Homo sapiens: one gene and its partners. The protein of the gene in region 3 interacts with the protein of the main gene of each other region in a pairwise test. Each region holds a gene or a part of one and is shown on either strand. Other genes may lie near its edges.

Region 1 (3,652 bases), on a different chromosome or scaffold from region 3:
CCTCAGCCTCCCAAAGTGCTGGGATTACAGGCGTGAGCCACCGAGAAATCTGGGTTTTCTGGGCTGAGATGGATAGAGAGCCAAGAAAGGGAGTCTTGGTGGAAGGACAGATTGAAGACAAGCCGTGGCTGAAAGAGTTCTGAAAACTCACTAGAGAACTCAAGAAAATGAGGCCTCATAATCCCTGGGGCTCTGGAAGCTGCTAGCAGGATGAAAGCCACGTGACTGGAGCCTTTGGTTGATTTCATCAGACAACCAGAGTAGAGCTGCTAAAGGAACAACTCCTGGGAGAGATGTGATGCAATGGGCTTGGGTAATCAGCTACACACCTGGTTTTCTTGTTTGTGGGGGAGGTGGTAGAGAAATGAAGAGAAGTAAAGTGGGGCTTCTGGAGGTTTCCTAGTCAGTGATTTCGGTACTAGGCAGGCCAACTACAAAGGGCCTTTCTGTTTATCTCAGGATTGCTCCTGTCTACATCTCCAGGGTTGACCTCCCCCTAAGCATACCCCCTCCTGCTGTCCTCTCATAGGCAAGGGATTAGAGATGTAACACGAGGACACTCATATAGATGTGAGAATTTAAATATCGAGATAGAAGTGGCATTTCAAATCAGTGAGAAAAGAGTCTTCTAGTTATTAAATCGTATTGGAACAAGTGGATATTTTCTGGGGGAAAAAAGATTCCCAATGTATACTATTCATGATAATGAGTTCCATATGGATAACAGGCCAAAATACAAAAAATGAAATAAAAATATTAGAAAAATTATAGTTAACTAAAGTTGCGGAACACCAAGCAGCTGCTGGAACAACCCCAAAGGAAGACAAACATTAGATGGTACATGAGAGATGCAGAATGTACATTTTTTGAAACCAACTGCCTCCCTTATAGAGAGCTAAAAAACAGGCCTGGTGCAGTGGCGCATGACTGTTATCCCAGCACCTCTGAGAGACTAAGGTGGAAGAATCGCTTAAGACCAGGAGTTCGAGACCAGCTTGGGCAACAGAACAAGACCCCATCTCTACAAAAACTGGCCGGACATGGTGGCTCACTCCTGTAATCCCAGCACTTTGGGAGGCCGAGGCGGGTGGATCACTTGAGGCCAGGACTTCGAGACTAGCCTGGCCAACGTGGCAAAACTTCGTCTCTACTAAAAATAAAAAAATTAGCCCAGCATGGTGGTACATGCCTATAATCTCAGTTGAGGGAGGCTGAGGCACAAGAATCGCTTGAACCTGGGAGGCGGAGGTTGCAGTTAACCGAGATTGCGCCACTGCACTCCAGCCTGGGCAACGGAGTGAGACCCTGCATCAAAAAAAAAAAAAAAAACCTACAAAAATTAACCAAGCATGGTGGTGGGTGCAGCTGCAGTCCCAGCTATTTGGGAGGCTAAGGCAGGAGGATCGCTTGAGGATTGCCTCTGTGCTCCAGCCTGGATGACAGAGTGAGACCCTGTTTCAAGAGAAAAAAAAAATCTAAGCAAAGAATAAACTAGGTAAGGTAAAGCAAGGGATTCCTCTTGACATATAAAGATAAGCCTGGTGCAGTGGCCCACACCTGTAGTCCCAACTACTTGGGAGGCTGAGGTGGGAGGATCACTTGAGCCCAGGAGTTTGAGACTAGCCTGGGCAACAAAATGAGACCCCATCTTTAAAAAAACAAAGTGCTGTATTAGATGTCATCACTGCTGGTGCTCACTAAACATCCTGCTAACAAGTAGAGCTCCTGTATCTGTCTTGGGTTTGCCTGGCTTCGTCCCTAGAATTCCTGTAAGTGGAGAACACAGAACAGGATGGTATACTGTTTTGACAGATCATTCCTCTGCCAGATTTAGGAGAGTGGAGTTTTCTTCTAGGGAAAGGAAGGAATGCCTTCACTGCAATTGATGAGAACAGTGTTTATTTGCCCAGCTGTTGCTACGGCAGCTGGAAGGTGACAGGGTCAGTGATGGAATTCCTCAGACAGAGGAAAGGGAAGCCTGAATGTCATTCTAGAGTGAGAAAAACAGGTGTAGGGCTTTAGGAATAGTCTGAGGGAAGTAGACATACAGCTCTCAGAGAAAGAAAGGAATGAGATGCTCTGGTTAGCCTACATCCTCTGCCACCAGTCTCCAACTCCACCACATTCTAACGTGTCTCTCTCATGACTCTGGAAATAATGGAGCTACCTGTTTTAATATGGGTCAGCATGCTTTGGGCTTCAAAGAAACCTGGCCAGGCTTAAACTGGTGTTCTTCAAATTTGGAATCAGGATCTCTGGGAGAAATTTTTGAGAGGTAGTAGCAACTATGGCTGTGGGAATACCAAACAGTACTAAGATGAAAAATGGGTGGCCAAGTGCGGTGGCTCACGCCTATAATCCCAGCACTTTGTGAGGCTGAGGTGGGCAGATCACGAGGTCAGGAGACCGAACCCATCCTGGCTAACATGGTGAAACCCCGTCTCTATTAAAAATACAAAAAAAAAAATAGCCGGGTGTGGTGTTGGGCACCTGTAGTCCCAGCTATTCAGGAGGCTGAGGCAGGAGAATGGTGTGAACCCGGGAGGTGGAGCTTGCAGTGAGCCGAGATCGCACCACTGCACTCCAGCCTGGGCAACAGAGCTAGGCTCCGTCTCAAAAAAAAAAAAAAAAAAAAAAAAAAAAAAGAGTGGCTATGAAGAGCCATGTAAGGTGGGTCTTTTCCCAGCCTCTCTCTCTCGAAGAAGAGGTGGTGCTGTATCAGGTGGCAGGCACAGTATTATACAAATCTAAATAACTATTTGATAATGCTGTTTGTATCTACAAGATTATCACGTAAGGGTGATGGGGATTATAGAAACAGCAGGATCCTTTCAGAGACTGTGAAATATCCAAAACCTGTTCTGTGCATCCGGCCAAGGGACAATTATTTGACCAGAAATTGAAAATTGTGCTTCCTTGAGTTCCAGGGTGACAGACCTGAACGCCTTCACGTATTCATATTTTAAACTTAAAAATAAATTGGGGGCGGGGGTGTTGGGCATGGTGGCTCATGCCTGTAATCCCAGCACTTTGGGAGGTCAAGAGGGAAGGACCACTTGAGCCCAGGAATTGAGACCAACCTGGGCAACGTTGCAAGATCCCACTACTATTAAAAAAAATACTAGCCAGGCATGGTGGCATGAGCCTGTGGTTCCCAGATACTTGGGAGGCTGAGATTGGCAGATGGCTTGAGGCCAGGAGTTCAAGGCTGCAATGAGCTGTGATTGAGCCACTGCACTCCAGCCTGGGTGACAGAGAGAGACCCTGTCTCAAAAGAAAACATACATACATACATACATACATACATAAAATTGAGGGAGGCAGTGGGGGTTTGGGAGGGGGAAATTCTAGGGAAGCCATTTTGCTATATCTGGTAGACTCCCCTGCCAGATGCAAAGACGGGAGTCTTGGACTGAGATTTGATTTCAAATCTGAGATTTTTCATTAGAAAGAGTTGAAATCTCTATACCCCAAGGACAACAGTCAAATAAAAAAAAAAATCAGCTGGGTGCAGTGGCTCACACCTGTAGTCTCAGCACTTTGGGAGGCCGAGGCAGGTAGATCACTTGAGACCAGGAGTTCGAGACCAGCCTGGGCAACATGGCAAAACCCTGTCTCTACTAAAAATACAAAAACAAGACGGATGCACACC
Region 2 (3,652 bases), about 210 Mb from region 3:
GTTTACAAGCATGAGTCACCACTCGTGGCCTTTCTTTTTTTTTTAAGAGACAAGGTCTCACTCTGTCATCCAGGCAGGAGTGCAGTGACAAGTGCATTCATAGCTCACTATAGCCTCACACTCCTAGGCTCAAGCAATCTTCCCTCCTCAGCCTCCCAAGTAGCTGGGACTGCAGGTACACAGCACCATGCCTGGCTAATTTTTGTATTTTATGTAGAGAAGGGGTTTCCCTATGTTGCCCAGGGTGGTCTTGAACTCCTGGACTCAAGCAAACCTCCTGCCTTGGCCTCCCAAAAAATTTCTTTCTTAAGTGCCATGTTTTTGGCTTTTTCCACCCACCCACCTCCCCCTTCTGCCCCAGTAGCAGTCATAGATGGTTTTTAGCCAAAGGGGACTTCTTCAGAAGGTGGAGCTTATTCTAAATTCTAAAGTGTTTGGCTCAATGGTAAAAGCAATTCCTTCCATTGCACAGAGAATATCAACCCTGTTAGACTTCTGCATTTGGGAGTTGGTAAGCACTTGGGTGTGCCTAGGCTCCTGTTTACCTTTTGTGTTGGAAGCAAATTAGCAGAATTGGACCCTTGAAGCGAGATGGAACAGAGTGCTCTGGGGACGAGGCCCGGTATGGTTAGTTGATCCCTGATCCCTTCGACTGATACTGAGGGGCATGTGGAAACCGCTCTTAACCCTTGGTGAAGCAGAAGTTTGTCAGGCTTCTTTAAGAAAGTTCTTGGCCTGGTACAGTGGCTCATGCCTGTAACCTCAGCACTTCGGGAGATCTAGGCGGTCAGATCGCTTGAGCCCAGGAGTTCAAGACCAGCCTGGGCAACATAGTGAGAGCCCATCTCTAAAAAAATTAAAAATATAAAAAAAAGCTCTTAGGCCAGGCGTGGTGGCTCACGCCTGTAATCCCAGCCCTTTGGGAGGCCAAGGCAGGCGGTTCATTTGAGGTCAGGAGTTTGAGACCAGCCTGGCCAACATGGTGAAATCTCATCTCTACTGAAAATACAAAAATTAGCCAGGCATGGTGGCGGGCGCCTGTAATCCCAGCTACTCAAGAGGATGAGGCAGGAGAAATGCTTGAATCCAGGAGGAGGACATTGCAGTGAGCCAAGGTTGTGCCACTGCACTCCAGCCTGGGTGACAGAGCGAGAGTCCATCTCAAAAAAAAGAAAGAAAGAAATTATAATTAATTTACTTTAAAATATTCAGTAATTTTTACACTTTAAAATTATTAAATCAGGTAAACCTTCACCAAATGTATCTTTTAACAATGAGTTCTTTTTTTTGGTTTTTTTTTGAGATGGAATTTCGCTCTTATTGCCCAGGCTGGAGCACAGGGGTGCAATCTCGGCTCACTGCAACCTCAGCTTCTGGGTTCAAGCGATTCTCCTGCCTCAGTCTCCCAAGGAGCTGAGATTACAGGTGTGCACCACCACGCCCGGCTAATTTTTTGTATTTTTAGTGGAGACAGGTTTCACCATGTTGGCCAGGCTGGTCTCAAACTCCTGACCTCAGGTGATCCTCCTGCCTTGGCCTCCCAAAGTGCTGGGATTATAGGTGAGAGCCACTGCACCTGGCCTAACAATGAATTCTTTATATAAAAAACATGTAATTCCCATGCATGAATTTTAGCTCAGTACAGCAGGCTCAAAATTTTGATCCTCTTTTTCTCTCTACATGAGTCCCATTCTAGCATGTTTTTTGTTTGTTTGTTTGTTCGTTTTGAGACGGAGTCTCGCTCTGTCACCCAGGCTGGAGTGCAATGGTGCAATCTCGGCTCACTGCAAGCTCCACCTCCCAGGTTTACGCCATTCTCCTGCCTCAGCCTCCCAAGTAGCTGGGACTACAGGCACCCGCCACCACGCCCGGCTAATTTTTTTTGTATTTTTTTCGTAGAGACGGGGTTTCACCGTGTTAGCCAGGATGGTCTCGATCTCATAACCTCATGATCCTCTCGCCTCGGCCTCCCAAAGTGCTGGGATTACAGGCGTGAGCCACCGTGCCCAGCCCTTTATATATATATATTTTTTTTTGAGATGGAGTCTCGCTCTGTTGCCCAGGCTGGAGTGCAGTGGCATGATCTTGGCTCACTGCAATCTCCGCCTCCCGGGTTCACGCCGTTCTCCTGCCTCAGCCTCCCGAGTAGCTGGGACTACAGGCGCCCATCATCACACCTGGCTAATTTTTTGTATTTTTAGTAGAGATGGAGTTTCACCACGTTAGCCAGGATGGTCTCGATCTCCTGACCTCGTGATCTGCCCCACTCGGCCTCCCAAAGTGCTGGGATTACAGGCATGAGCCACCGCGCCCGGCCCCATTCTAGCATGTTTTAAGTGAAATTCTCTGTTCTTAGAATTCTTCAAGATAACACAAAACCTCGTTTCCTAAAAACCGTTTCATTTCATACCTTCTGTACTGTTCTGACAGCTGTGTGCTCTCCCTCTTGCAGAGCAACCGGCTGACCAAGATCGAGGGTCTGCAGAACCTGGTGAACCTGCGGGAGCTGTACCTTAGCCACAATGGCATCGAGGTCATCGAGGGCCTGGAGAACAATGTAAGACACCCACTGTCTGTCTGGGGCTGTGTGGGCGGTGGGCACCAGGCGGGCAGGCACCTGGCCAGCCAGCACACACTGGCCTCTCGGGCCGGTGTCAGGAAGATGCCCTGCCTCTGGAGGTTTATCAGAAAGACCTTCCCATCCTAAAAACTAAGGGACCCTTTCCTCATACTGAAAAGTGCAGGAGCTGTGTGTGCCTGTTGGCCCTCTGCCCTGAGTGTGCCTTGAAGGGCTGACGCTTTATGTGGGATTTCAGCACAGGCTTCCCTAGGCTTCCTCAATGGGGCAGCATCCATTGCACACCCACTGTGCACTGCAGGCATTTTGCAAGATTTGAAAAAAACAAACCCAACCTGCTCGTAAAGGGCCCTGTATGAGGGTGACTGGCATCCCTTTAGGCCACTGACCTGTCCATGGGTCCACTGGCCTCAGCCCCTACTTCCCAGCCCACAGAGAGCACAGGACCAGCTCTCAGTCCCAGCCCCTTCCTCTTCTTACAGTATGAGCAGCTTCCTCCTCCCCCATTCCTCCCTGCCTGCTTTCCACACCTGTCCTCACCTGTTCATGCTCCTCCCTCCCTCCCCGGCCCTTCTCACTCAGGTGCAGGACAGCCTCACGTACTGAGGGGAAGTGTGCTCACAGAGCCCCCACCCTCCTCAGCTGCCTCCAGCTCACCCTGCTCTGCCCCAGTGCGGTGTTCAAGACAAATAAAAGACTTTTTCTCATTCAATTTTACTTGTTTTTTTCTGTTTTGTTAAATTGCCAGCAAATACAACCAGATTGGTCTATAAACATAGTGTTTCAATCTCATTAAAGGCCTTTGTGCCTCAACCCCAGGGCCTAGTTGGCAGCAGTAAATTTCACCAACACCTGCATAAAATTTTGGAAAAATTCAAATTTGCCTGTGGAAAGTTTGGTCACCTTCCTTTGACTTTGCATTGAAATTAAAAGTTTATAAAACTAGCATGCAAACCAAGTGTTCACCTGTGTAGTTTAGAGTGGTAAGTCGAGACGTGCCTGCAGTGGAATGGCGCTGAGGACTGTGTGGCAGGGGCTGGGGTTGGGGCCGGGTGGGGTGCGCAGCAGGGAGCC
Region 3 (3,652 bases):
AGAGTTAAAACCTTAATGGACACTAGAAAACCAAGGGCCACTGCCTACAGTGACTTCTGTTTCACCTGGATAGTTTACTAGATAAACTAATTTTAAAAGAGCCTCTTCAGCCAAGTAAGCTGCAGTCAATCTGAAATATGACCAAGGAGATCTCAAGGAACCAATTTAATTAGTAACATGTTTCCCAGTTTCAGGTTCCTCTTCCTGGCCTATGCCTGACAGATCTTATTTTGAAAAAACTCTGAATCAAAGCAACTCTTCTGAACCAGAAAATTATTAGGCAATGTTTCCATGAATTACTTTTCTAAGTCTTTATTTTCACTTACATTCATCATAGAATCCATAAATGCGATTGATGCTAGCACACTCATGGTTTCCTCTTAAGAGAAAGAAGTTCTCTGGATATTTGATTTTATAAGCCAATAGCAAACAAATGGTTTCCAAAGACTGCTTTCCTCTGTCCACATAATCTCCTAAGAAAAGATAGTTGGCTTCTGGTGGGAAACCTCCATATTCAAATAATCTCAGTAAATCTGTATATTGTCCATGAATATCTCCTAAAAAGAGAAAGAGTCAGTTTTAGAAAAATTGGTTACTGTTATAAGCAGCTTCTATGAAATGATTCCCAATGTTCACATCCTGTGTAATCCTCCCCTACCCTTGAGTATGGGCTATATTTGGTGACTTACTTCTAATAAGCGAAAGTGAGATGGGCTGTCACTTCCAAGATTAAGTTACAAAAGACTGTGACTTTCATCTTGCTTGCACTCTCTCACCTTCTTCCATGCTCGCTGATGAAACCAGCTGTCTAATGAAGCATCCCACGTAGCAAAGAACTGAGGGAGGCCTCTGACCAACAGCTCATTTGGAACTGAGGCTCTTAGTCCATCAGTCTATAAGGAACTGAATCCTTTCACAGTTCAACCTTCAGATGACTGCAGCCCGAGATCACGCCTTAATTGGAGCCTTGTGAGAGACCCAGAGCCAGAGGACCCACTAAGCTGTTCCTGAATTCCTGACCCACAGAAATTGTGAGATGGTAAATTAATGTTGCTGTAAGCCACAAAGTTTTGGAATGATTTATTATACAACAATAGGTAACTAAAACAATTTTATTATCTGGTAGTTTAACTTACGTCACTTTTTAACACCAAATATGGAGACAAATAGTAAACCTTTAGAAATATGTAGTACAAATAACTTCCATTACCTTCAAGTTATTTCTATATTACATTTTAAAGAACACCTTCAAAGAATACTTTAATTCTAATAATTTTAAGATCACCTCTAAGTAACTACATTTGCTTAAGTTTATACAGGGGATTGATTAGTTCCCCCAAATTCTGAACTACTACCTCTTACTTGAAGGTGTGATATTCTAAGTTAACTGATCCATTCAACAAACATTTATTGGCCAGCTGCGGTGGCTCATGCCTATAATCCCAGCATTTTGGGAGGCCAAGACAGGTGGATCACCTGAGGTCAGGAATTCAGAACCAGCCTGGCCAACATGGAGAAACCCTGTCTCTACTAAAAATACAAAAAGTCAGCTAGACGTGGTGGCTCACACCTGTAATCCCAGCTACTCAGGAGTCTGAGGCAGGAGAACCACTTGAGCCCGGGAGGTGGAGGTTGCAGTGAGCCAAGATTGTGCCATTGTACTCCAGCCTGGGCAACAAGAGTGAAACTCTGTCTCAAAGAAAAACCAACCAAACAAACAAAAAACAAACATTTACTTAGCGAGTATCTCTTATTTGCTGGGCACTGTACAAAGGACTGTAAAAAAGTCACTGTAAAACTTAAAAGAATACAAGGTATAAAGTAGTATAATCTTCAAAACAAATTTAAATAACATCAAAGTTAGAAGACCACAGATATCGCCATATTGACCCTCTAAATTATACACCTATTTTTTTCTAACCAGTGTACTATGATGCCCTTTTCGTGACATCCTTGACAACACTAAACATCAATCTTTGGTATTTTTTTATAATCTGACTAGAGTTGGAGACTTGCTTTAAATTGCACATCACTGATTACTAAAAAAAGAAGCTGACGTCCTTATGTTTACTGGCCATTTGAATTTCTTCTAAGACCTTCCTCTTCCTATGTTATTTTTATACTGTATCGCCTTTCTCTTATTTATAAGAACTCTTTATATATTATAAATAGAACTCCTTTTATCTGTTGATATATAGCAAGTATTTTCATCTTGTCTGTAACTTGTCATTTTTATAAGTTTCAATTTTTATACACTTTTATTTAGTAAAGCCTACTGATCTGTTTTATACAAAAATTTCAAAAAATGTTTTCTCTAGATCTTAAACATGGGAGGAAAAACATGATTCAAAAGAGTTGTTTCCAACTTTACCCATTTACATACCACAAATTTTCAGCGGTGCTTCCAATTCCAAAAGAATAGGCTGGCTGAGAAAGATCTCCCGAGACTTGATACATAAGCCTCGAACTTCTGCTTCAGTCATCTGCACAATCTTTCCTGGACGACATCCTCGTACTGACAAACGATAAATAAAACAGTCAGTTTTCTAAAATTTACTCATAATAATCTTTCAAAAAGAGTCATGCCCATACTTTAAAAATCAGAAAAGTCACACAGGCAGCAAATTACCCTATTTGGTCCCATGGTTTAAAATAATGTTATTCTATGATCTCTGACTTCTATTTTCATTGTTACTGGTTCCTGATGATGCTCCTCAAGTCTGCTGTTGATGAAATGCAGTCCTGTTTTTTGCTGTCCTGTGACCAACCTGGGGCCTAGTAGCCAAAGAGACTTAAAAGATTTCAGGGCCGGGCACGGTGGCTCATGCCTGTAATCCCAGCACCTTGGGAGGTTGAGGTGGGTGGATCACCTGAGGTCGGGAGTTCAAAACCAGCTTGATCAACATGGAGAAACCCCATCTCTCCAAAAATACAAAATTAGCCAGGTGTGGTGGCGCATGCCTGTAATCCCAGCTAATTGGGAGGCTGAGTTAGGAGAATCGCTTGAACCCGGGGGCAGAGGTTGCAGTGAGCTGAGATCGCCCCATTGCACTCCAGCCTGGGCAACAAGAGCGAGACTCCGTCTCAAATAAAAAAAAAACAAACAAACAGAAAAAAAACAACAACAAAAAAAACACACACAAAAAAACATTTCAGAGCCCGCACCCTTTAAGGTCTGGCCTGCTTATCTCGCATCTAGTAGGATGTCAAAACAGCCTCATTAAGAACAATGTGCTATGAAGAAAGGGAGATTAAATAGTAATTGTCAGTAGGTGATTTAGCTTCACACACTTTCTTGGAATGTTACCAGCAGTCCCCAAAATTTTAGCAACTCCTATCTCTACTTTCTGATCAAAAGAAATACAAAAAAGATATCAGCTATGTATTAAAAATTAACTTATCGTTACATTCCCAATAGATCATTATATTAAAACCTCTAAAGGCTATTTAGATGGAGTGAGGCATCTTTGCATTACTGAGCCATAAGATAATATGGTTTCCAGTAACTTGTGGGATGAAGGGGAACAGAATGTTGCATGGAGAGACAGAAGAGTTCCTTATTTGCCCCACTGAACTCAACTTGTAATCATTTCCTCTCATCACCATCTCCCCTGACTCCCTTTAACCTTAAATTTACAGCTGAGCTCTCATT

Evidence for each region.
Region 1: the proteins of PPP1CB (region 3) and CSRNP2 interact in binary tests that used the Homo sapiens proteins (3 or more experiments, as listed by UniProt).
Region 2: the proteins of PPP1CB (region 3) and PPP1R7 interact in binary tests that used the Homo sapiens proteins (3 or more experiments, as listed by UniProt).

What each region holds. Positions count from the first base shown.
Region 1 is NC_000012.12:51,069,948-51,073,599, forward strand, and holds part of CSRNP2 (cysteine/serine-rich nuclear protein 2), read right to left. Parts: intron 1-3,652. UniProt on the Homo sapiens protein: Binds to the consensus sequence 5'-AGAGTG-3' and has transcriptional activator activity. May play a role in apoptosis.
Region 2 is NC_000002.12:241,163,885-241,167,536, forward strand, and holds part of PPP1R7 (protein phosphatase 1 regulatory subunit 7), read left to right. Parts: intron 1-2,452; coding exon 2,453-2,557; intron 2,558-3,160; coding exon of another isoform or gene 3,161-3,184; exon of another isoform or gene 3,185-3,290; intron 3,291-3,652. UniProt on the Homo sapiens protein: Regulatory subunit of protein phosphatase 1.
Region 3 is NC_000002.12:28,775,714-28,779,365, reverse strand, and holds part of PPP1CB (serine/threonine-protein phosphatase PP1-beta catalytic subunit), read right to left. Parts: intron 2,516-3,652; coding exon 2,384-2,515; intron 558-2,383; coding exon 327-557; intron 1-326. UniProt on the Homo sapiens protein: Protein phosphatase that associates with over 200 regulatory proteins to form highly specific holoenzymes which dephosphorylate hundreds of biological targets.